Regions from separate parts of the Homo sapiens genome. Here region 2 is linked to region 1. Evidence: fine-mapped expression QTL. A gene starts in region 1. The other region holds a variant in brackets. All regions are shown on one strand. Distances are between the middles of the regions. Region 1 holds the start of PPFIA1 (PPFI scaffold protein A1). Region 2 overlaps PPFIA1 (PPFI scaffold protein A1).

Region 1 (11,238 bases):
TTTTTGAGATGGAGTCTCACTCTGTCGCCCAGGCTGGAGTGCAGTGGCACCATCTTGGCTCATTGCAACCTCCGCCTCCCAGCCCTGGAGAACTATTTTAAGAATGAAATGGTGGCCAGGGGCGGTGGCTCACACCTGTAATCCCAGCACTTTGGGAGGCCGAGGTGGGTGGATCATCTGAGGTCAGGAGTTTGAGAGCAGCCTGACCAATATGGTGAAACCTTGTCTCTACTAAAGATACAAAAATTAGCTGGGCGTGGTGGCGCATGCCTGTAATCCCAGCTACTCAGGAGGCTGAGGCAGGAGAATCATTTGAACCTGGGAGGCAGAGGTTGCAGTGAGCTGAGATCGTGCCACTGCATTCCATCCTGGGCGACAGAGTGAGACTTCATCTCGGAAAAAAAAAAGAATGAAATGAGATGAATAAGTAAAATGGTAGCTCTTGGCCCTGGGAATTGAATTATTTCGGCTGCACTGCAGACCAACTGGTAAAATGTTTTCTCTTCAGTTGTTCCTTAAAGAGGCCACTCCTTGATCACAACGACGTGGGGACAGGACGGGGAATTGAGAGCCCTGGGTTCACTCAAGGCTCCACCTCCAGCTCTGCCCCAAACTCTCTGAGTGTCTACAGGGAAATCTGTTTTGCATCTCTGGGTTTCAGCTCCCTTCTCTTAAAGGAACGACCACATCCTCCACCATCTACTGCCCTAGGGCTCCTCCAGCTCAGACCTCCCCCTGAACTGTGTTGTCACAGCACTCATTCATTAGGTGGCTTTACATGTTCTGGGTAGATTTGGGCACATCCTGATCTCTATGATTGAGGTCAGACCACAACGATCCCCGCAGGAACCTCCTTCTTAAGCCGCTTACATCTCTGGAGTGGAGAGGTGTCCTGAGTGATGCTCATGGTTGACAACTAACTGCATCATCCAGGCACCTTCTAGAGAGCAGAGGCTGGCTGACCTCCACCGCAGCCACATTTGCAAACATGAAACCCCAGGAGTAGTGATAAATTCTCTGCTCCCTCCTCACTCCTTCTATCATAATTTCTTTATCAAGTCTTTTACAGAAGAACTGGAGTGAAAACATTTTCCATCTTCACTGTTTTCCTGACAGAGCCTTGGGTGACAGCATGTCACCCAAGCTCTGAGAAATGTTTTCCAGATAAATACTTCTGGGAAGTAGTTTAGCTGGGTGGTATGAGTAAATCCATCTGAAAGTCATGTTAGCTTCCTGAAAGCAGTTCTCCATGGTTCTCACTTGTCCAGATTGAATTTTAATGAACATTTATTGGAGGTTTTCCTATTGATTATAATAATGACGCACATTCATGATAAAGTATCTAGAAAATAAAGACTAGCAAAATGAAAGAAATGCAGCTTCCAACCACAATCCCACTTAAAGATAACCACCGCGAACATTCTGATGGATCTCCTTCCAAGAATATATACATATATATATGCGGGAAGTGGGGAAAGATAAAGAACTAATTGACTACAGTAACAATATTTTCTTATGTAGACATATGTTTTTCTTTCATAATTTGAAACTTAAAATTTAATTTCTCATTTCAAGAATAGTTCATGTCATATAAAACTCATTTTATTAAAAATGTATCACCTTAACATTCTAGAGTTATTCATCTACAAGGTAAATTTTACATAATACATTCTTAATCTAAACACAGACTGTTTTCTTTTTCAAATTGGGGTTCACACTCTGTATACTTGTTTGAATTTGCTTTTTTAAAAAAGTTTTTGTTTATGTATAAAAATTAAGGCATACTCTACATATTAATGTACAGTTATTTGACAAACGTATATAGTAATGTAACTACCACCACAATCATGATATATGTAGTTATCTAAAATATGACTGTGGGCCAGGTGCGGTGGCTCACACCTGTAATCCTAGCACTTTGGGAGGCTGAGGTGGATGGATCACCTGAGGTCAGGAGTTCGAAACCAGCCTGTCCAACATGGTGAAACCCAGTCTCTACTAAAAATACAAAAATTAGCCAGGTGTGCCTGTAATCCCAGCTACCCAGGAAGCTGAGGCAGGAGAATCTCTGGAACCCCAGGAGGCGGAGGCTGCAGTGAGCCGAGATCACCCCACTGCACTCCAGCCTGGGCGACGGGGCAAGATTCAGTCTCAAAAAAAATGACTGTGAATGTCACCAAGTTTTCTGTCATTTGGAAGTGCAATAATTTAACCAATCTTGTTTTCTTGGCCATTTAGGTTGTTTACGATTTCCCCCTTACTGATTTTGCGATCTGGGGGAATGAAATAATAAATGAATTAAAATGAATGAGGGCCATGAGTGGTGGCTCATGCCTGTAATTCCAGCACTTTGGGAGGGTGAGGTGGGAGGATTGCTTGGGCTCAGGAGTTTGAGACCATCCTGGGCAACATGGTGAAACCTCTTTTCTACCAAAAATACAAAAAAGTTAGCCAGGCATGGTGGTCTGCGCTGGTAGTCCCAGCTACTTGTTGGGGAGCTGAGGTGAGATGACTGATGGGCCTGGGAGGTAGAGGCTGCAGTAAACTGTGTTCGAACCACTATATCCCAGCCTAGGTGACTACATGAGACCCTGTCTCAAAAAAAAAAAAAAAAAGAGAGAGAAAAAGAACAAAGGAAGGGTAAGGGGAGGGGAGGGAGGGAGAGAGAGAGAGGAAGGAAGGAAGGAAGGAAGGAAGGAAGGGAGGAAGGAAGGAAGGAAGGAAGGAAGGAAGCAAGGAAGGAAGGAAAAAGAAAGAAAAGAAAGAAATAAAATGAAATTCAGAATTCTCATTTTCCTGGAGCTATACCAACTGGGTGTCTCCCTTCTCCGCTGGAAAAATCCCACATCATTCAAGACCCAGCTCAGATATTGCCTCCTCTATGAAGCCCCCATGATGCCAGCTGGAGAGCGGGTTCCTCCCTTCCCTGTGATTCCACAGCACCAAGTCACACACTGTTTACGGGACAGACATTGCAATAGTCTGTTTTTCTTCTCTTTCTCCAGACTGTGAACTCATACTAGAAGTGATGTCTTAGCTCTGCGTTCCCAAGACCTAAGCCATGCTTGGCTCATACATGCTGCACAAATATTCATGAAATGAATGAACATTCTACCCTGCCGAACTAAATTTTGATCTTGAGCCGATTTTTCTTTTTTTTTTTTTTTTTGAGATGGAGTCTCGCTTTGTTGCCCAGGCTGGAGTGCAGTGGCGCGATCTCGGCTCGCTGCAAGCTCCGTCTCCCGGGTTCACGCCATTCTCCTGCCTCAGCCTCCCGAGTAGCTGGGACTACAGGCGCCTGCCACCACGCCCGGCTAATTTTTTGTATTTTTAGTAGAGACAGGGTTTCACTGTGTTAGCCAGGATGGTCTCGATCTCCTGAACTCGTGATCCGCCTACCTCGGCCTCCCAGAGTGCTGGGATTACAGGCGTGAGCCACTGCGCCCGGCCTTGAGCCGATTTCTTAGAAAACAGACACTTTATGAGCATGGTGCAAACATAAGCTGGCTGCATTAAGCAGGTACCCCTAAGGAGAGCTGGAAATTTGCTGGTTTCAGACAGTGGTTCAGGGGAACTTGGGAGTTGTGCAGAATTGCTGGGGTGTGGAGAGGTACAGGGTACTTGCAGAACACCTCATCTAAGCGATCAACTTTACAATTTTATTATTTTTGAGACAGAGTCTCGCTTTGGCACCCAGGCTGGAATGCAGTGGCACAATCACAGCTCACTGCAGCCTCGACCTCTCAGGCTCAAGCGATCCTCCCACCTCAATCCCCCAAGTACCTGGGACTACAGGTGTGGCCCACCTTGCTGGACTAATTTTTAATTTTTTGTATAGACATGGGTCTCGATATATTGCCCAGGCTCAAGCAATCCTCCCACGTTGGCCCCCCAGCGTGCTGGGATTACAGACGTGAGCCACTGCACCTGGCCAATGTTTTTTTTTTTTTTTTTTTTCTGAGACAGAGCCTCGCTTTGTCTCCCAGCCTGGAGCGCAGTGGCATGATCTCCTCATTGCAACCTCCACCTCCCAGGTTCAAGCTATTCTTCCACCTCAGCCTCCTGAGTAGCTGGGATTACAGATGCCCGCCACCACACCCGGCTAATTTTTGTATTTTTAGTAGGGATAGGGTTTCACCATGTTGGCCAGGCTGGTTTTGAACTCCTGACCTCAAGTGATCTGCCCACCTGGGTCTCCCAAAGTGCTGGGATTACAGGCTTGAGCCACCGCACCCGGCCTCACCTGGCCATTTTTACACTTTTAAAATAGCAAGAAACTAGGGGCAAAAAGTACATATTCATATCTATGTGTAGTCAGTCAATAAATATTTATTGAATGAACGAATAAATTAATGGAAGGTGTTCCAGATCCTGGTAGGCGAGAGTCAGTCGGAGGGAGTGCTTGTTCTTGGTGCACTCACAATGGAGAATCAAGGAATTCACCTTGGACGGGCTCATTTCTCCCTCTCCTAGGCCCCGTGCAGCCTCTTCTCAGACTTACTAGTTCTGAGGGGCTCCTGGCTGCCTCACACCAACAGCAGTGGCCAGTGGACACTGGCGATGGTGTCCTGACATTTTGGTTTGTGAAGAGTTTGTGCTCCGAGTCAAATCCTGGGAGGAGTGGGGAGGGCATCCGCTTTAATTAATTAGAGGTGTCTCTATTCATCTCCGTATCTGCAACATCTAGCACAAGACTTGGCCCATAGTAGATGTTTAAAAATTCTTGCTGAGGCCGGGCGCAGTGGCTCACGCCTGTAATCCCAACACTTTGGGAGGCTGAGGCGGGCAGACCACCTGAGGTCAGGAGTTCGAGACCAGCTCGACCAACATGTAGAAATCCCGTCTCTACTAAAAATACAAAATTATCTGGACTTGGTGGCGTGCGCCTGTAATCCCAGCTACACGGGAGGTTGAGGCAGGAGAATCACTTGAACCCGGGAGGCAGAGGTTGCAGTGAGCCGAGATGGCGCCATTGCACTCCAGCCTGGGTGACAAGAGTGAAACAACGTCTGGAAAAAAAAAAAAACTTGCGGAAAAGATGAAATGACCAAGACTCGCGCAGTGCTGCCCGTCAGGCTCTCAACTAGTCGCTCTTCACATCTGATTCATGTCTTAAAGCAGCCTCGCAGGTAGGTCTGCATCATTTTCCCATCCTACATCGGAGGCGCTGAAGCCCAGGCGGGTTTCCCGAGTCGCCCGGGCCCACGCTGCAGAGTGAAAGCCACAGCGGCAAAGCCTGCACTCTGGACGCTGCGCCGGGACGTCCCCAGGTGCGGCAGGCAGCGCTCCGTAAGTGGGTCCTGGCGGGAACTCCGTCCTTCTGAACCCAGATCAGGCCCAGGGAGACCGTAGGGGCGCCGCGGCGGGCGGGGTCTGGGTCCTCGGTGGTGACTGAAGCCTCGGTTCGCTCTTCTGCAAGGTGCGAATCCAGAGCCTCCAGCTCGGGAGGGACCTGACGTGCCGGACGCGTCCAGCTCAGAACTCGAGGCGCGGTAGACACTCAGCAAAGGCCTCCGGCGTCCCTGCAGCCGTGGGGGGAAACTGGGGACGCCCGGAGGAAGACGCTGACCCGGCGAGCACCTGAGCGCCCACCTGTGGCTCATCCCGGAGACCGCCCCCTCCCCCGCGACCCGGGCGGGGCCTGGGGGGCGTGGCTCCCGTCTCGCTCAGCCAATCAGTGCCCCGGGGCCGCCTCCCGCCCCCTCCTGAGGAGACAGCGCTTGCGTACTCGGGCCAAGGTGCTCCTCGGGCCCCGCCCCCGGGGCGGTGCTGACGCTCGCGCCGACGCGCTCGACGTCGGGCACGTAGACGCCGGCGCCGCGCAGCCGGGCCCGCTCCTCCTCCGCTCCGCCAGTGTCCGGCCGCGGGCCGGCCTTAGTGACTGGGGCGGCGGGCCCCGGGGCCGCGGCGTGGGGCGGGCAGGCGGACGCCGGCCGCGGGCTGCTTTCGTCGGCTCCCAAGCTCTCCCGGAGCGAGCAGCCGCCCGCGAGCCGCCGCGGAGCCTCCTCGCCCGCTCCCGCCGGCGAGCAAGGTAAGGGAGCGGGACACTGAGGCAGGCTCGGGGCCCAGGCGTCACCGGCGCGTCCCGGTCTCCGCGGCGGCCACGCAGCCGATTAGATGTCTCCGCGGGGAAGGGTGCGCTCCGGGACGGGTGGGGGCGAGGCCGCGGCGCCGGGTCGCGCTGGGAGAGCTCCGGCGGGACACCCGCGCCCCAAGGGACGGCTCCGGGGACTGCGCGCTGCCCCTCCCCGAGCCCCGCGCCCCGTGACCCGGGCGCTGGGGCGAGGGGCGGGGACCTGTGGCCGCTGAAAGCCCTGGCCCGAGCGGGCTCCGTTGTCAACGGTCCTCACCCCCCGGGGTTCGGGGCTTCCGCCGCACCTGATACAGGAGGGGAGGAGTGCGGCTCGAGCAGGCTGGAGGTCACCATCCCCATCAGGTGCGCCGTCTGGGGCATCCCCCTCTCAGGGGTCCACCGCGCCCCCAGTACTGCCCGAAAGGCTCAGAAGCGACTTCCCCTTTCCCTGGCGCTGTCTTTATATCCCAGACACTTAATAGACTCTCGTAATCTCACCTTTCACTTTTCCCTCTTTCCTAGCCGCCCCCGGCTGTATCGACCTGCTATATTTCCATTGTGGATTTTTTTTTTCGGTTGTAAACTTACGTAAGTTAGGTTGACCAACCGTTGCAGCCATTGGAAAACACTTCTACCAGCGTTTAACGAATCCGGTTCCTTTTAGTGCTCACCAAATCCAGCCCAAGAATTCAGGGAGCCGTCAGTTCTTCCCGGGAGCTGACTGCACACATTCCTGCAAGATGCCTGATGGATTTTGTACTTGTCAGTTTTGCTGGTTGTATGCTCCTTCTGTGCTTTTCCTGAAAAATGATTGGGTGACATGTGTTTTGACTTTCTCCCCCCCTACCCCCCCACCCTCCCCACCCCACTGGGAAGTAAAAAAAATAGGTAACAGAAGCACACTTGTTTTCAGCAAAAACAAGTACAGCTTTGCAAACAGACTACCCCAGGGCTTGCCCTTTTTTGTGAGGGTAGTCCTTTGGGATCTTGACCCCTTCCCTGGATTTTTGTCTGTGTTAATGTCTTCATGTTGTGTATTTTTGCACTTAATATTTGCCCTGTGTATGTTTTCCCAGCTTATTTACACACAAAGCATAACAGATCTGAGCATAATGAGACTGCCCATCTTTTTAGCTACAGATACCTGTAAAGTTGCATATTTGTGGGAACCTGTATTCTGAGCTTAATTACTGTAGCCTGGGTCTTTCATTTCAAGATGATGTGCGAGGTGATGCCGACCATCAGCGAAGCAGAAGGCCCCCCTGGAGGAGGTGGAGGCCATGGTTCCGGCTCCCCTTCACAGCCAGATGCAGATTCACATTTTGAACAGTTGATGGTCTCCATGCTAGAAGAAAGGGACCGCCTTCTTGATACACTGAGAGAGACTCAAGAAACGCTGGCCTTAACCCAGGGGAAGTTACACGAGGTTGGTCATGAAAGAGATTCCTTGCAGAGACAGCTCAACACGGCACTTCCACAGGTATGAGTGCTTTTAACCTGAAACTATAGATTTTTCTCCACTAAATGTTTTTTTATTAGTGTCATCTTTTGTTAATGTTTCAGATGAGTATTTTCCGTAACGATTTGTGAAATGATAGTTTCTGGTGTTTGTAAGTCAAATACAAAGTTCCTAGGGATTAAACTTCTTAGGGAGAACAAATCGTTGTACTCTAAAGTCATGTGAAAATACCTCATTATTTTCATTCCTATCTTTGGGAACTGCCTAGGTTCAGGAAGTTCTCCAGAGTTTTTGAAAAAGGGCTCTGAAGCAACCAATCTATTTGGTGCCTCCATTCTGTTGTCTTAAGCCTTTTCTGGCTAAACTTGTACTTCCCATGGATTATCTCATGTATTTCTAATTTCCTAATGTAATTTAATAGACAAATAGGATTGATTTCACGGAAAAAAAAAATTATTTTGATAGCCCACCTTTATCAGAACATCTAGGTTTTGTAAGTCACATTTGTTTTAGGGGATAGAAGACTCGAGATTGATTCCTTAGGAACTTTTTCCTTGGCAGATGAGAATTTTAAAGCTTAGGCCGGGTGTGGTGGCTCATGCCTGTAATCCCAGCACTCTGGGAGGCTGAGGCAGGCGGATCACCTGAGGTCAGGAGTTTGAGACCAGCCTGGCCAACATGGCAAAACCCTGTCTCTACCAAAAATACAAAAATTAGCAGAGCGTGGTAGCGCGCATCTGTAGTCCCAGCTACTCAGAGGCTGAGGCATGAGAATCACTTGAACCCGGGAGGTGGAGGTTGCAGTGAGCCAAGATTGCACCACTGCTCTCCAGCCTGTCTCAAAAAAAAAAAAGATTTTTAAAGCTTAGAACAACTGAAATTGTTTCTCTGAGTATGTTACATTTGGACCAGTGTTTGAAAGACTTTGCTCATGGAGTTGAATGAGGATTTACTTAATGGTAGGTAAAGGGAGAAAGTAAAAACTAGAAGAGTGTAAGGTGAGTGGCACGGGGCATAGTGGGAGAGAAGTGGGTTATTTATGTGTTTCAGAGCTGTCTAGGCGCCACGTTACTCATCATAAGTGCCTTTGGGGTGCATTCAGGTAGACCCGCATAAGCACACATTTATACTCGCATGATGGGTCTGCAGTGATAAATTAGTAAATGAATAAGTACTAGCCTTAATGTGTTTCTTGGCTGTAGTCAGTTCTCCTGAAAGATTGATAAGCCAAACGTGGGTTTCCTTTTTAGCAACAATAATTTGACGTTAGCGCTCTATGTTCCTTTTTTGTTGGATTAAAGAATCATTAAGATTTTTCTTATTTCAATCTTATAAATTACCAAGTTTATTTATGTTGAATTTTATTACTACAATTTTAAAAGAAGTAGCCAATTTATGTTTTACCAGGATTTTATTGTATTTGTAATTTAAGGTACACGTATTGAAGTGTATATCAAATACTAATATACTTAATAAGGTAGGTTTTGGAAAGAATGGGCACACAAGACATGTCAGGGAAGTGACAGGAGTTTTGTACAGTTAGTCGCAGGCTGTGGAGGTTGTCACACACACTGGTGACATGGTTGCTCAGTGATTTGTTTCTGGCACTGCTCAGTGTAGCAGCCTGGGAATGCCTAGTTCAGTGGATAACATGATGATGCCAACGGTTCACGTTACCACCTGAGCACCTGATTCCAGCCTTTCAAAAATGGAAACTATTAAGTAAACTTGTTTTGGACCCTTCCCTTTCCTGGCATCTGGTTCATCTTTGGTGGCTGGTAGTGTGACCAGATAATGAGTCCAGGAAGTGCATTTGTGCTCCTGGCACATTGTGGAGGCAAGTTAGAGTGTACTTAAAAATATACATAACTATAGCATACAGCAGAAAAATTCACAAATCGTAAGTATACATCTCAGTGGACTTTTCACAAAGTTAACACACTTGCATACCACCACCCAGATCAAGAAATGGAACATTATCAGGCTTCCTAGAAGTCCCCTCCTAACTATTCCCAGTAGTTGTCCCCCAGAGCTAACCAAGGTCTTGACCTTTCACCATTGATTACTTTTGCCTGTTCTTGACTTTGTTTAAGTGAAGTAAAATAATCTGTATGTTTTGCTTCTTCATTCTGTCGTCAGCATCATGTTTGTGAGATGCAGCTTGCTCATTCTCACCTGCTCTCTGGTCATCCCGTGCACGAACAGACAGAACTTATTCTTTCTACTGCTCACAGACATTTGGGGTTGTTTCCAGTTTTTACACGTGCTCCCCTAATATTGTTTGTTTTTTGGTGCAGATGTCTATAAACTTTTTTTTTTTTGAGATAGGGTCTCACTCTGTTGCCCAGGCTGGAGTGCAGTGGCATGATCTCGGCTCACTGTAGCCTCCACCTCCCAGGTTGAAGCGATTCTCCTGCCTCAGCCTCCCAAGTAGCTGGGAATACAGGCACGCATCACCACCCTCCGCTAATTTTTGTATTTTTTGTAGAGGTGGGGTTTTACCATGTTGCCCAGGCCGGAGGATATGTGTACACTTCTGTTGGATTTCTACAAAGAAGTGGAATGCAAATGATGGTGTGTGCATTTGTTCAGCCTCAGTAGAGAGTGCCAAAAGTGGTGGTTGTGACAGTTTGTACTACCCCAGCAATGTATGAGAAGTCAGTTGCTCCTATGCTCTTCAGCACTTGGTATTGTTGGGTCTTTACATTTTAGCTGTTCTGGTGGCTGTTAGCTGGTAGGTGGCTCAGTATGGTCTGAATTTGCTGCTCCCTGATGGCCAGGAACATGCAGAGGTAAAGCATCTCTACCTGTGTTCACTGGCCACCTGGATGTCTTTTGTGAAACGGTTATCTTTTGCCCATCTGTTGATTGGGTTGTCTGTTTTGTTTTTTACTGATTTGAAGGAGTTTTCTCTATATTCTGAGTACATATGTGCATGACAGATTGTTTTTAGACTCTTGTGTTTGCCTTTTCACTCTCTCAGTTGTATCTTTTGATACATAGAAGTGTAAAATTTTTAATGTAGCCCAGTTGATCCATCTTTTCAGTAATGTTTAATGCTCTTTGTGTCCTGTTTAAGAAATTTGCTTGGTCAAGTTCATGAGATATTCTACATTGTCTTCTAAAAACTATTTTTTAATCTTCCATCTGAAATTGACTTTGTTTATGGTATGCGATGGGGCCAAGAGTCTCTCTTTCTTTTTTTAAATGGATATCTAGTTGACCTTGCATAATTTCTTAAAAGACTATTCTTTCCCCAGTGTACTACATGCAGTGTCATCTCAGTCCAGTGACTGTAAGTGTGTGGGTCTGTTTCTGGACTCTCTTCTGCTCCTTTGATCTTTTTGTCATCTTTGCACAAATAGCACAATGTCTAAATTCCCATAGATATAGTCTGTCTTGAGATCTGGTAATTTAAGAAAAGGGTACTCACTCGGTTGCCCAGACTAGTCTCCAACTCCTGGTGTCAAGCGATCCTCTCACCTTGGTCTCCCAAAGTGCTGGGATTACCACTGTGAGCCACCACACCTGGCCCTGTAGATATTCTTTATCAAAATGTAAAAATTCTCCTCTTCTTAGTTTGCCAAGAGTTTTTTAAAAACCATGAGCAGGTATTAAATTTCTTAACATGGATTTTCTGCATCTTTTGAGACAGTCATGTGATTTTTCTGTTATGTGGGAATTTAACTGTTTTTGTTTGTTTATT
Region 2 (11,238 bases), 91 kb after region 1:
AAAGTAAGCTTTGTGTTATTTCTTCATCTCATTGAATGGTTTTCAGTTGTGCCTAAGCTCTAACTAGTGTTTGTTAATTATAATAGCTAGCTATGTATATATACATTATATTCTGAAAGCTTTACCTACAGCCTTAATTAAGCCGTACTTTCTGGAAGATTTAGTGTTTGTGAAATTTCGAAGAAACTCACACTGGTATCCCTATCATCTTGGAAAGCTGTCCAACCAGGAGATAGGGTGGGTGAGAGTTGGACTCAGCTGCCTGAGCACTGGAGTCGGCCCTGGCGCCTGCCCAGGTTCACTTTGTGACGTTGAGGAAGTGGCCTAGCATCTCTGTGCTTCAGTTTTCTCATCTGTAAAGTGGGGATCCTAGTAGTACATACCTTGTATGGCTTTTATGAGAATTAAATGGGATAATGTGCATACAGTTCTTTAAACAGTACCAGCAAGTCATAAACAAGTTGTAGCTGTGGCCAGTGCAGCGACTGTTGCTTGCCAGCATTCAGGATTTGCTCTTCATACTGCTGGTCTGTCCGAAACAGTCGCCATGCTGCATTTTTCTCTCTTCCGTAGATCGGGTAGTTTTATCTCAAATAGACTCCTGATTTTATAGCCCGTTTATTCAGCTTTAATTCTAAACTAAGTCTGCTTCTGACAATAAGCTCTAATATTTGGGATGGCTTTGAACAAAGGAGAACAGGCATTGTGATGCCCCAGGGTGAGGACGTGGAGGAATCGGGTTTCTGTCCCTGGGCCTTCTGGGATGCGGGGTGAGTTGCGTGTTGGCTGACTGTAGATGAAGTAGATAGGCTGAGACAGTGCCCAAGTGAGCCAACAAATGTAGAACAAAACTAAACCCAGTTCTGCAATAAAATAGGCAGTTTGTGTAGTCCATGGGATAAGGGCTGAGCTTGAGCAATGTGGAAGATGGTAATGCCAGGCTTACAGGGTGAAACTTGACGGGCTGTATGATGACTGTGACTGTGGGAAAAATCATCTGGCCACTTTTAAGTGCCCTGAGAAACCAGTGCTCATCTGGAAATTGGGGCCCAAAGATGCACCAGAGCCTATGGGGACCCTCTCCCCTAGAGGCCCCTTTGCCTTTAGCCCCTAGAGTTGCCAGCTGATTTTTTTCTGTTGTGAAATCTATCTCATTTTAGTTTTCTTTTCAAAGCCTTTATAAATGCTGTATTGATTATATTTTAGGTAAAATGCTTTTATGTTAACAGTACCATAGGAATACTCAGTTTTTTGGTTCCCTGTAAATGGAAATTTATAGAAACCACGTAACAGCAAAATCTGATTTGAACATTGCTATGCTTGAACTGTGTAAGAATTTTTTTTTTTTTTTTTGAGATGGAGTCTCGCTCTGTCACCCACGCTGGAGTGCAGTGGCGCAATCTCAGTTCACTGCAAGCTCTGCCTCCTGGGTTCACACCATTCTCCTGCCTCAGCTTCCCGAGTAGCTGGGACTTACAGGCGCCCGCCACCACACCCGGCTAATTTTTTGTATTTTTAGTAGAGACGGGGTTTCACCATGTTAGCCAGGATGGTCTTGATCTCCTGACCTCGTGATCTGCCCGCCTCAGCCTCCCAAAGTGCTGGGATTACAGGCGTGAGCCACCGCGCCCAGCCAAGAATGTTTTCAAATAACTTGGGTAATTGCCATTTGGCCCTGTGAAACTTAATGTTAGAGCTAAACTTTCTGCCTCCTGGAAACATGCTAGGAAAATTTCATTCCTTAGATTTTGCTAATGTTACTGTTTTTATGATAGTAAGTATGAGGAAGTGAAATAAAACTTCTCTGTCCTTTATGTTGTGCTTGGGATCCATGTGGAAGTTCTGAAATGTACCAGCTCCTTAGTGGGGAAAATTTCCAAGTACAAAGATTATTTGTCTGACTATAGAGGGCAGTTTCGTTTCTTTCACTTAAACTGAGATAAAACTGATTTTAGAAAAAGTGCTTTATTTATTGATTGATTGATTGAGACGAAGTCCCTCACTCTGTCGCCCAGGCTGGAGTGCAATGGCACGATCCTGGCTCACTGCAACTTCCGCCTCCTGGGTTCAAGTGATTCTCCTGCCTCAGCCTCCCAGCAGCTGGAATTACAAGCGTGTGCCACCGTGCCCAGCTAATTTTTTTGAATTTTTAGTAGAGATGGGGTTTCACCATGTTGGCCAGGCTTGTTTCGAATTCCTGACCTGAAGCGATCTGTCCACCTCGGCCTCCCAAAGTGTTGGGATTACAGGCGTGAGCCACCACGCCTGGCCTAAAATGTCTACATATAAATGTGAAAAAAAGTTTGCGTTTTCCAGAAAAAGTATTGTGTGAATACAGTTTAATATTTATGCCATCTTAAGAACGAACGTATATTTCTCAGAATTATTTTCTTCTTATTAACCCCTGATTTAACTCAAAGGTGTGTTTTAACTGCAAAATTTACACAGCCAGATGCTTTCACTTACAGAGAACTTAAGGAATCTGGTGAGTTTGGTGGCAAGCTGATTTCAAGTTTTGTAAGACACAGCATGGTGGGCGCGTTTGGTGCCTGGGATACGTAGTAATGAACCCGCAAGTCGGGGCTGGCTGTCCTAGAGCCATTCGTCAGCTTTGATAGCGCATAGTGCCTCCACAGCACTTTTAGAATTCCCCAGCGTTCTTGAAACACCATCTCTTGAAGTAACCTTGCTTTTAAAGTGTTCCCTTTTCATGTTCTCCTTTTTGTCTTCGTAGTGCTTTCTCAGGGTAAGCAGACTCGGGAGATTTGCTGGGCTGAGTGTGGGCAGTCACCAGCCACAGGCTCTATGCTGAGCTTCCTGAGAGGATCTTTTTATTTTTTTATTTTTGCCCTTGCAAAATAAAAGAAGGCCCTTGCACCGTTGCCCAGGCTGAAGTGCAGTGGCGCGTTCACCACTCACTGCAGCCTTGACCTTTATTTTTAGTAGAGACAGAGGTCTCAATATGTTGACCAGGCTGGTCTTGAACTCCTGGCCTCAAGTGATCTTCCTGCCTCTGCCTCTCAAAGTGTTGGGATTACAGGCATGAGCCACCACACCTGGCCCAAGGATCTTTTTAGTTTTGCATGAGAAATGCTGACTCCATCCATTTCTCATCAGGGCGACCCTACATCTTTCCTCAGGACTCTGCCAGTGTGCCATGGCAATGGAGCATGGGAGGGGCTATGCCTGGGTCACAGAACTGTACTTGTGGTGGTGGTGTTTTTTTATGGGTTTTGGAGAGGGTCCTGCTCTGTCACCCAGGTAGCAACTGTACCTGTGAAAGCAAGTCTTGTTCACTCTATGCAGGGTGCCAGAGGATTGAAAAGCTTCAGTCTTAAGAAAGTAAGGCAATATATTTAGTTTCGATAGTTGAGAGAAAGTACTTCCTCCCATCCCTTACATACTGTTTGATCAGCAAAAACTCACACAAGCTTCTCATTATGAAAGACAACTTTACCGTTATGCTATGTCTTAATTATAAAATGCACAACATTATTCACAAATTATATGACCTTTTTGCATTATAGCATTCTCAGTAGCAAGTGAAAGAGCCAAGTCTGAGATCAAGCAATAAAGGAGGAATGTAGTTGTTCATGTAAATGAACGGCCCAGAGGGCCAGGGTGGAGTGGCTTCAGCCATCTCCAGGCTCTGGACTCTGCATCCCCTCGACACAGGGGCCTTCTTCCCGTGATTGGAACAGTCCCCCCAGAGAAAACAGGGGCTCTGGTGTTCCCACCTGGAGTGCCAGCCCAGGGGCATGGTCCCATGTTTGGTCTTACAGATCATGGACTGGTCTGATAGGGGAGGGGAGCCAGGACACACACCGAGGCCTGGGCCCGCCACCCAGATGGGGTCTCCTCTGCCTTCTCCCTAACTTCCTGTGACTCTTAGACACATCCGTCTACCTCCACTGTCTTAACACTGTTTCCACTGTTGCCTCTGGACCCAGAAGCATCTCCATTCTGGAAAAGACTTTTTATAAAAGCTAGTGATCATTGCCAGGAAGAGGGTACTGGTGAAGTCTAGGACAGTGTACACCAGTCTCCAAGTAATAGAAGTAAAGAATTATTTTTTGACAATTATTTTTATTTACAGTGAGTATCTATTACATGTTAAAAAACGAAGTCTCTGGCAGAGTGCCAAGGCTGAGCGTAAGTTGGGAACCCTCCTGACTTGGCAGCAGTCAGATCCTCCCTGCGCCTTGGCCAGGCCCCGGACGCTCAAAGCCTTAGCAGTTAACCAGATTGTTAGCGTTCAGAGCTTTTTCTGGGATTGATGTGGCAGGAATTACCTGTACTACTTCCTAGACCCACTGGTGTGTGAAGGAAGCTCTACTGGCTGTCTTTGAGTGGCATTTGTCCCAAGGGAACGGAAGGCAGGGTTTCAGCCACCACCTGGTGATTGGCGCCATGCAGCGCGCCCTTCCTCCCAACCTCTTCATTTCGCATCTTGCGATACCACTTCATACTCCTAAGAAAAGTCTGCTGCTATTGAAATGTATTGAAGAGCCAATATCAAATTTTTAAAAATAAGAGATTCTATGGTATATGTCTTATGAAATTATTATAGAAAAAATGGACTAAAAGCAGCCTAGGGATGTTTGAATGACTTGGGGATATCTGTACTTGCAAACCAAATGTATGTGTCCTCTCCATTACAATGACACCTTCTCTCTGAGACTTTTTATTTTTTAAAACAATTAGCCTCTTTGAAAGCCTTGTAGGTAAACACTTGAGAAATAAGATGAGATTCACCAAGCTTATAGTGTTATTTCTGAAATACCTATGTTAGAGAGCATTATGTTAACCTCTGATTCTGTAAGGAGACGGGGATTCTGTAGAGAGTCAGAGGGAGTCATTCAGTATTTTCTCACTCAGGCATTCTTTGTAGTATGCACAGAACTAGTGTGAAATGGATGGTGTTGATACTGTTAAAGCTGTAGAAGATGAAAGGAAAATGATGAGCATGTATAGTCGTCTCTCAGAGTCTATGGGGGATTGGTTCCAGGACCCCTCCTGAATACCAAAATCCATGGAAGCTTAAGTCTCCTGTATGAAATGGCATGGTATTTCCGTATCACGTAGGCATAATCTCCTGTAGACTTCAAATCATCTCTAGGTTCTTTACAATACCCAACGGAATGTAAGTGCTATGTAAATAGCTGTTGTACTGTATTGGTTTTTTTTGTTTTTTCCCACTGAATATTTTTGATCTGCAGTTGGTTGACTGTGTGGATGTGGAAGCCGCAGATACAGAGGGCAGACTGTATACTGCTAGACTTTTGCAAATGCTCAGAACACTTCGTTAACTAATTTTATATATGTGTATAATAGTGGTTCCTTGATTTTGTTTTTGCTGGTTGTAATTTTTTTTTTTTTTTAGAGATAGGGTCTCACTCTGTTGCCTAGGCTGGAGTGCAGTGGCACAGTCATGGCCTACTGTAGCCTTGACCTCCTGGGCTCAGGCAATCCTTCCACCTCAGCCTCCCAAGTAGCTGAGACTACAGGCATGCGTCACCATACCTGGCTGATTTTTTTTTTTTTTTTTAATTTTTGTAGAGATGCATCTCATTATATTGCCCAGGCTGCTCTTGAACTACTGGCCTCAAGCAGTCTTCCTGCCTCAGTCTCCCGAGTAGCTGGGACTACAGGGGTGTGTCACTACACCTTGCAAATTTTTAAAATTTTTTGTAGAGTTGGGGTCTCGCTGTGTTGTCTAGGCTGGTCTTGAACTCCTGGGCTCAAGTGGTCCTCCTGCCTTGGCCTCCCAGAGAGCTGGGATTACAGGTGTGAGCTACCATGCCTGGCTGATTCTTTAATTTTCAATATCTTCTCCTTTATAGGCATGAATTGCTGGAGGAAGCCCGGAGACAAGGTTTACCTTTTGCCCAATGGGACGGGCCAACGGTTGTGGTCTGGCTAGAGGTACATCCTTCATTTAACATGCAGTTGC[G/A]TGGGTTACAGTATGTGAACTTACTGTTCTACTTTGTAGACTGTACCTCACTGTGCTGCCTTCCTTCCGCTTTCCGCCTCCAGCTCTGGGTTGGGATGCCAGCCTGGTATGTGGCTGCCTGCCGAGCAAACGTGAAAAGCGGGGCCATCATGTCGGCCCTGTCCGACACAGAGATCCAGCGTGAGATTGGCATCAGCAACCCCCTGCACAGGCTGAAGCTGAGGCTGGCCATCCAGGAGATCATGTCGCTGACCAGCCCGTCTGCCCCGCCCACATCTAGAACGGTACGTTCAGAGACAACCCCTGCATTCTTTGGAAACAGGGAATGCCTCTCTGAAGGTATCACTGCCCTGTTTACATTGCTTCTCCAGTTCCTTAACAGCATATGAAGTATAGTTCTAATTCAAAATTTTAGCATCACATACATTAGAACTTTTAATTTTGGGGAATTGGATGGTCAAAAGAAACTTTATTAAATGCTTTTATGAAAGATTGGCTAGAATGGCTTCATAGTATAAAAATATGAGCTTTTTTAAACATAGAAAAGCAATTACAAATTTAAATATGGAAATATGAAATACGAAAATACCAAAAAAAATTGGTAGAGATGGGGGTCTCGCTGTGTTGCCCAGGCTGGTCTTGCACTCCTGGGCTCCAAGCAGTCCTCCCACCTCAGCCTTCCAATGTGCTGGGATTACAGGCGTGAGCCACCACACCCAGCTGAGTTTATCAAAATTGAATCAGTCTAAGGGCCTCTTGAAGGAAAAAGTTAATATTTTAAGGACACATTTTATAATTAAATGTTTTGAATTTCATTTTTCAGTTTTCATGATTCAAACTGAGTAATTAACATTTGTACTATATATAAAGATATTTGCTAAGCCAATTATAGTGTATTTTTAAATGTTACTGGAATATAATATACATATAGAGAAATGCACGTATGAGTGAACAGTTAAATGAATCTGTAAAGTCAGCATCCCCTGTGTGGTCCACACCTACATTGAAAAATGGGATCTGACCAGGGCTCTGGAGGCCTCCTGCTCCTTCTGAGGCACTGCCCCTTCCCTAGGGATGAGTGCCTGGCTCCTGGTGCCATAGACTGCTCTGTTAGTTTCGTTCTTCATGTGTATAAACAAGATCATGTAGTATTCACTCTCTTGTGTCTGGCTTCTTTCACTTAATGTTATGTCTGTGAATTCATCCGTATCATTCCATGTGTAAGTAGCATCTTGAGTAAAATTTTTCTGTCTAGTTCAGAGGACTGGCTCTTCCAGGCTTCTTAGAAGCACCCATTTATTTATTTATTTAAGTTTTTTATTTTTTGGAGGCAAGGTCTTACTCTGTCACCCAGGCTGGAGTGCAGTGGCTCAATCGTAGCTCACTGCAGCCTCAACCTCTTGGGCTCAAGCGATCCTCCCACCTCAGCCTCCCAAGTAGTTGGGACTACAGGTGTGCACCACCACACCCAGCTAATTTCTAAAAACTTCTTAGAGACAGGGTCTTGCTGTGTTGACCAGGCTGGTCTGGAACTCCTGGCCTCCAGTAGTCCTCCTGCCTCAGAGTCCCTGAGTGCTGAAATTACAGGTGTGAGCCACCATGCCCAGCCAGAAGCATCCATTGAAATATAGGTGACATACTAGTAAGAGATACTTGTTATCCCACCGTCAAAACTGATCCCTAAGGAATTTTTGTATTTTTTGTAGAGATGGGTCTCACTTTGTTGCCTAGGCTGGTCTGGAACTCCTGGGCTCAAGCGATCCTCCTGCCTCAGACTCCCAAGTAGCTGTGACTACAGGCATGCACAGCCATGCTTGGAAAAGGTCCCTAAAGAATTCTAATCCTCCCTTCCCCATCATTCCAGTTTGCGGACATTTTTTAAAATAAAAACTAAAGGGGAAAATAAAGATGAGATCACTGGTTGCCTTGTAACCAGTGTTTTACTGTATTTGATTTATTTGGCCTGTAGGTGTTTTCCATTTGGGGAGCTAAAGACCCTGGGAGCTCAGGATTTCAAGCAGTTCACAAATCTGCAAATGTTCATCCAACATGAGCTGTACTTATACAGTTTCTCTCCATGTGGGAAGTCCCTCAAAGTCCTTAAGAAGGGTTATCCTACTTGAAAAAGAAGAACTATGTTAATAAAAACAAGAATGGTTATTGGGAGATAAGGGCAGGCCAACTCCAGATTTATAAAGTTGAGACTTTTTACACTGGCTGGATTCCCAGTCTCTGCTTTTAGTCTCCTCAGGAGAAAACAAATTCTTGTTGCAATGAAGAGCCTCACACATTTCTCCAAGGAGCACGTCAGCGCTGGATTTAGGGCTCCCAGTTACCTTACAAAAAAAGTTTTGAGGGGTTTTACTTGTTTTATTTATTTTTTTCTTCTTAATGAACAAATTATGGTGATGAACAATAAGCTTTGTCCTCCCCTGTTGCTCCAAGAGCTCCTTTCCCACAGCCTGCCTCAGGAGCAGTGTCTGAGCTCTTCCCTGGTTGTTTCACATGACAGTGGCCTTGCTGAAAATGAAGGTGCTGAGTGGTTTCTCCCATGTTTATCCACTGTCTTCAGTAATGATGGAGAACACCTCACATAAGGCAGACTCTTCACACCATGTCAAAATGCAAGGAAAAAATCTCCCTCAAGTAGACACACAGGCCACTGTCTGTCTCGTGTCTGGTTCTGATGGCTGCACAGAGCCATCGACACTGCTTAGCAGTGACCCCCTCTGCCCTGTGGCCTGCCTTCAGCCTTTCAGGCCGTCACGGAACATCTGCGAGAAAGCCCTCCAATAGCCAAAGCAAGAGTTTCATGCTGGGTTCTTTGTTGTTAATCTGCTTTAAATATATTGAATCAATAGTTACTTGAGAATTACTCAAAGTTTCCAGAAGTACACAACGTGTTTTCTTCTCTTGATATTTCACATACCTCGGGTAAGCATGGCATCTAAAGCTCTCGTCATCGTGTGCTCTTCTCCTGATGGTGTTGACGACCCAGTGTTAACAGGGAATGGTTATTCTGTACGGGCATCTGAACTGAAAAGTGAGAAGAGCGAACTTTGCCTCCTCGGCCCCTTCTCTGTGCCTGTGGCTTATGCGTGTGCCCCTCTCCTCTTTGTCACTGCTTCCCTTGCCCTGGATGTGGTTGGTGCACTGGGGTCACCTTAGACCACAGGAAATGTCTGGTTAACACACGAAGAGATGGAAACGCTCGCAGCCACGCCGCAAACGGTTAGTCACGCCCCACAGCCTGCACTCCTCCCAGCGCGTTTTCCACTTAAGACCGTCTGGGTTCTTTGCCTTTTTGTTGAAAACAAAATGTTGTTTTCCATTCAGTCGTTCCAGATAAGTATTTCCTTTAGTTATTAGTTGAAATGTGTAAGTAGAATTTGTATTTTATTTTAGATTTTTTCCAGGAACTTCAAGTTGGTAGACTCTGTCTTTTAGAATAGCTTTAATCTAGCTCTCCTTTTGGAGAGATCTCAGTTGAGCCTCCATGTGACTGACTGTGTGGCCCTTTCTCCTTCCATGAATATGCTTGGCACGGAGAGAGTCTGCTCCTTGCATGAGAAGTTGAAATTGTTGGTTTTGCATGAGTTTTGCATGATGCTTTGATAGTCTGAACTTTTTCACTCAGTGAAGCTGCATCTTCCCTGCAGAGTTGCGTTGCCTGCATTACCGAGCTCACCAATACTAATAGTTATGTTCTTTTGCATTCCTAACCACGTAACCCCAGGAAGATGAGGAGGGAAGCTGGGCTCAGGTTGGAGTCTTTCTCTAATATATTCTTCACTACATGTACAGCAGCAAAAAGCAATTGGAGTATGAAAACTTGTGTAATCTACTTTTTTTGATGTTTATAGCATCTTAGTTTATTCGGAGTACAGGATTGTTAATGATTTGAAAGCACTGGTCAAGCAAAACATAGCATCAAAGAGTACGTCTCATGGACAATTTTGAACATTTCTCATATGGTGCCATGGCAGTTATTTTTAATTAATATAGATTGCTTTGTTTAACATATGATCTTGTATACAAAGTCTTGTGGCTTAGGCAGCTTCTGAGATTATGTATGTAATTTCCTGGTAGGGTAATGTTATTACAAGATATACTGATAGGGAAATTGTGCTCTAATAAATTTCCAAACACAAAAATTGGCATAATGACTTTTCCTCTGTGCCTTTGTGTTGATTTTTTACTAAATACTATCCTAATACTATGTCCACTTAAAGATTTTCTTACTAATGGAATCCTAAGGAATTAAGCCTCTTCTTGAGTACTGTATATTTGAATTTTCAGCTTCTCAATTCTTTAACTCACCAAAAACTCTATCCCAACTGTTTTGCATTCTGTATGTTCAGACAGCTTGCCGAAATGTCGTGCGACGCCACTGGCCTTCTGTGGTCAGGGTGTATGTCTCAGTGGCACATTGCAGCCATGAGGCGTGGACAGGCAGTTCTAGAGGCTTTCCCGAATGGACTGTATTTGAGGGCTTCAGAATAATCATTATATATCTGAAAAGAATCAAAAGGATTTTAAATCATAATTTTCCTGATTACGAGGTGATGGTTGAAGCAGCTGTTTCCTTCTCTTGGTACTCCTAAAATCTAGCTCATTAGACTGTCCCCCCACCTTTTTTTATTTTTATTTTTTATTTGTATTTTTTAACAAAATAGAGTAGCTATAATGTGATTCTGTGGGCTTTTTTCTCTCTTGATTTAAGCATTCTGTGCCTCTCCTCCAGATAAATAACCTCATTGTTTAACTTGTTAGATATCCCTTTATAGGACCAATAATGACCATAAATGAATTATACAGGGTACATTTCATAATTACTTAAATTTCAGTATATTTTCCACCAAGGAGCAGAATTTGGTTAATACTTCAGTATGAAATTGCCTGAGTCAGGGACAGGAAGTGTAAATTAAATAAGCTTAACCTTGCTCTTTGCGGTGGAAATATAAACAAGACTGAGCTGTGGTGATGACTCCAGAACTAGCCGACATGCAGTCTAGTGGAAGCTCGTATCACTTTTCCCTCCTTCCTGTCTTCCAGATGGGACTGCCACCTGCTGCCAAGGGCAGTACACAGTGGCCAGCTCTTAAACCAGGGAGAACTTTGAGCTGCGCCGAGAGACTAGGGGAGGAAGACATCAAGGCGTGGTCAAAACCATTTATACCTCATTTAACAAAATTAGTAAGAGTGCTGGCTGCGTGGAGCATCTATGAGCAGGACACCCATGGTCCCCCCGTCATGGAGCTCCCATTTTATGGAGTTCATAAGAC

The links. PIP is the estimated chance that this variant, and not a neighbour inherited with it, causes the effect.
Region 2: its variant is fine-mapped to the expression of PPFIA1 in whole blood (INTERVAL, PIP 0.96).

What each region holds. Positions count from the first base shown.
Region 1 is chr11:70,264,884-70,276,121 of GRCh38, forward strand. It overlaps PPFIA1 (PPFI scaffold protein A1), which reads left to right and starts at 5,807. Exons shown (of 28, transcript NM_003626.5): 1 at 5,807-6,031; 2 at 7,290-7,553. The coding sequence starts at 7,290. RefSeq lists silencers at 5,392-5,941, 5,982-6,411.
Region 2 is chr11:70,356,252-70,367,489 of GRCh38, forward strand. It overlaps PPFIA1 (PPFI scaffold protein A1), which reads left to right. Exons shown (of 28, transcript NM_003626.5): 19 at 1-3; 20 at 5,844-5,925; 21 at 6,037-6,237. It overlaps CTTN-DT (CTTN divergent transcript), which reads right to left. Exons shown (of 3, transcript NR_186321.1): 3 at 6,393-10,467. Among named protein-coding and RNA genes, the nearest start is that of CTTN-DT, 37 kb to the right of the region's middle. The variant G/A (reference allele first, on the strand shown) is at 5,954.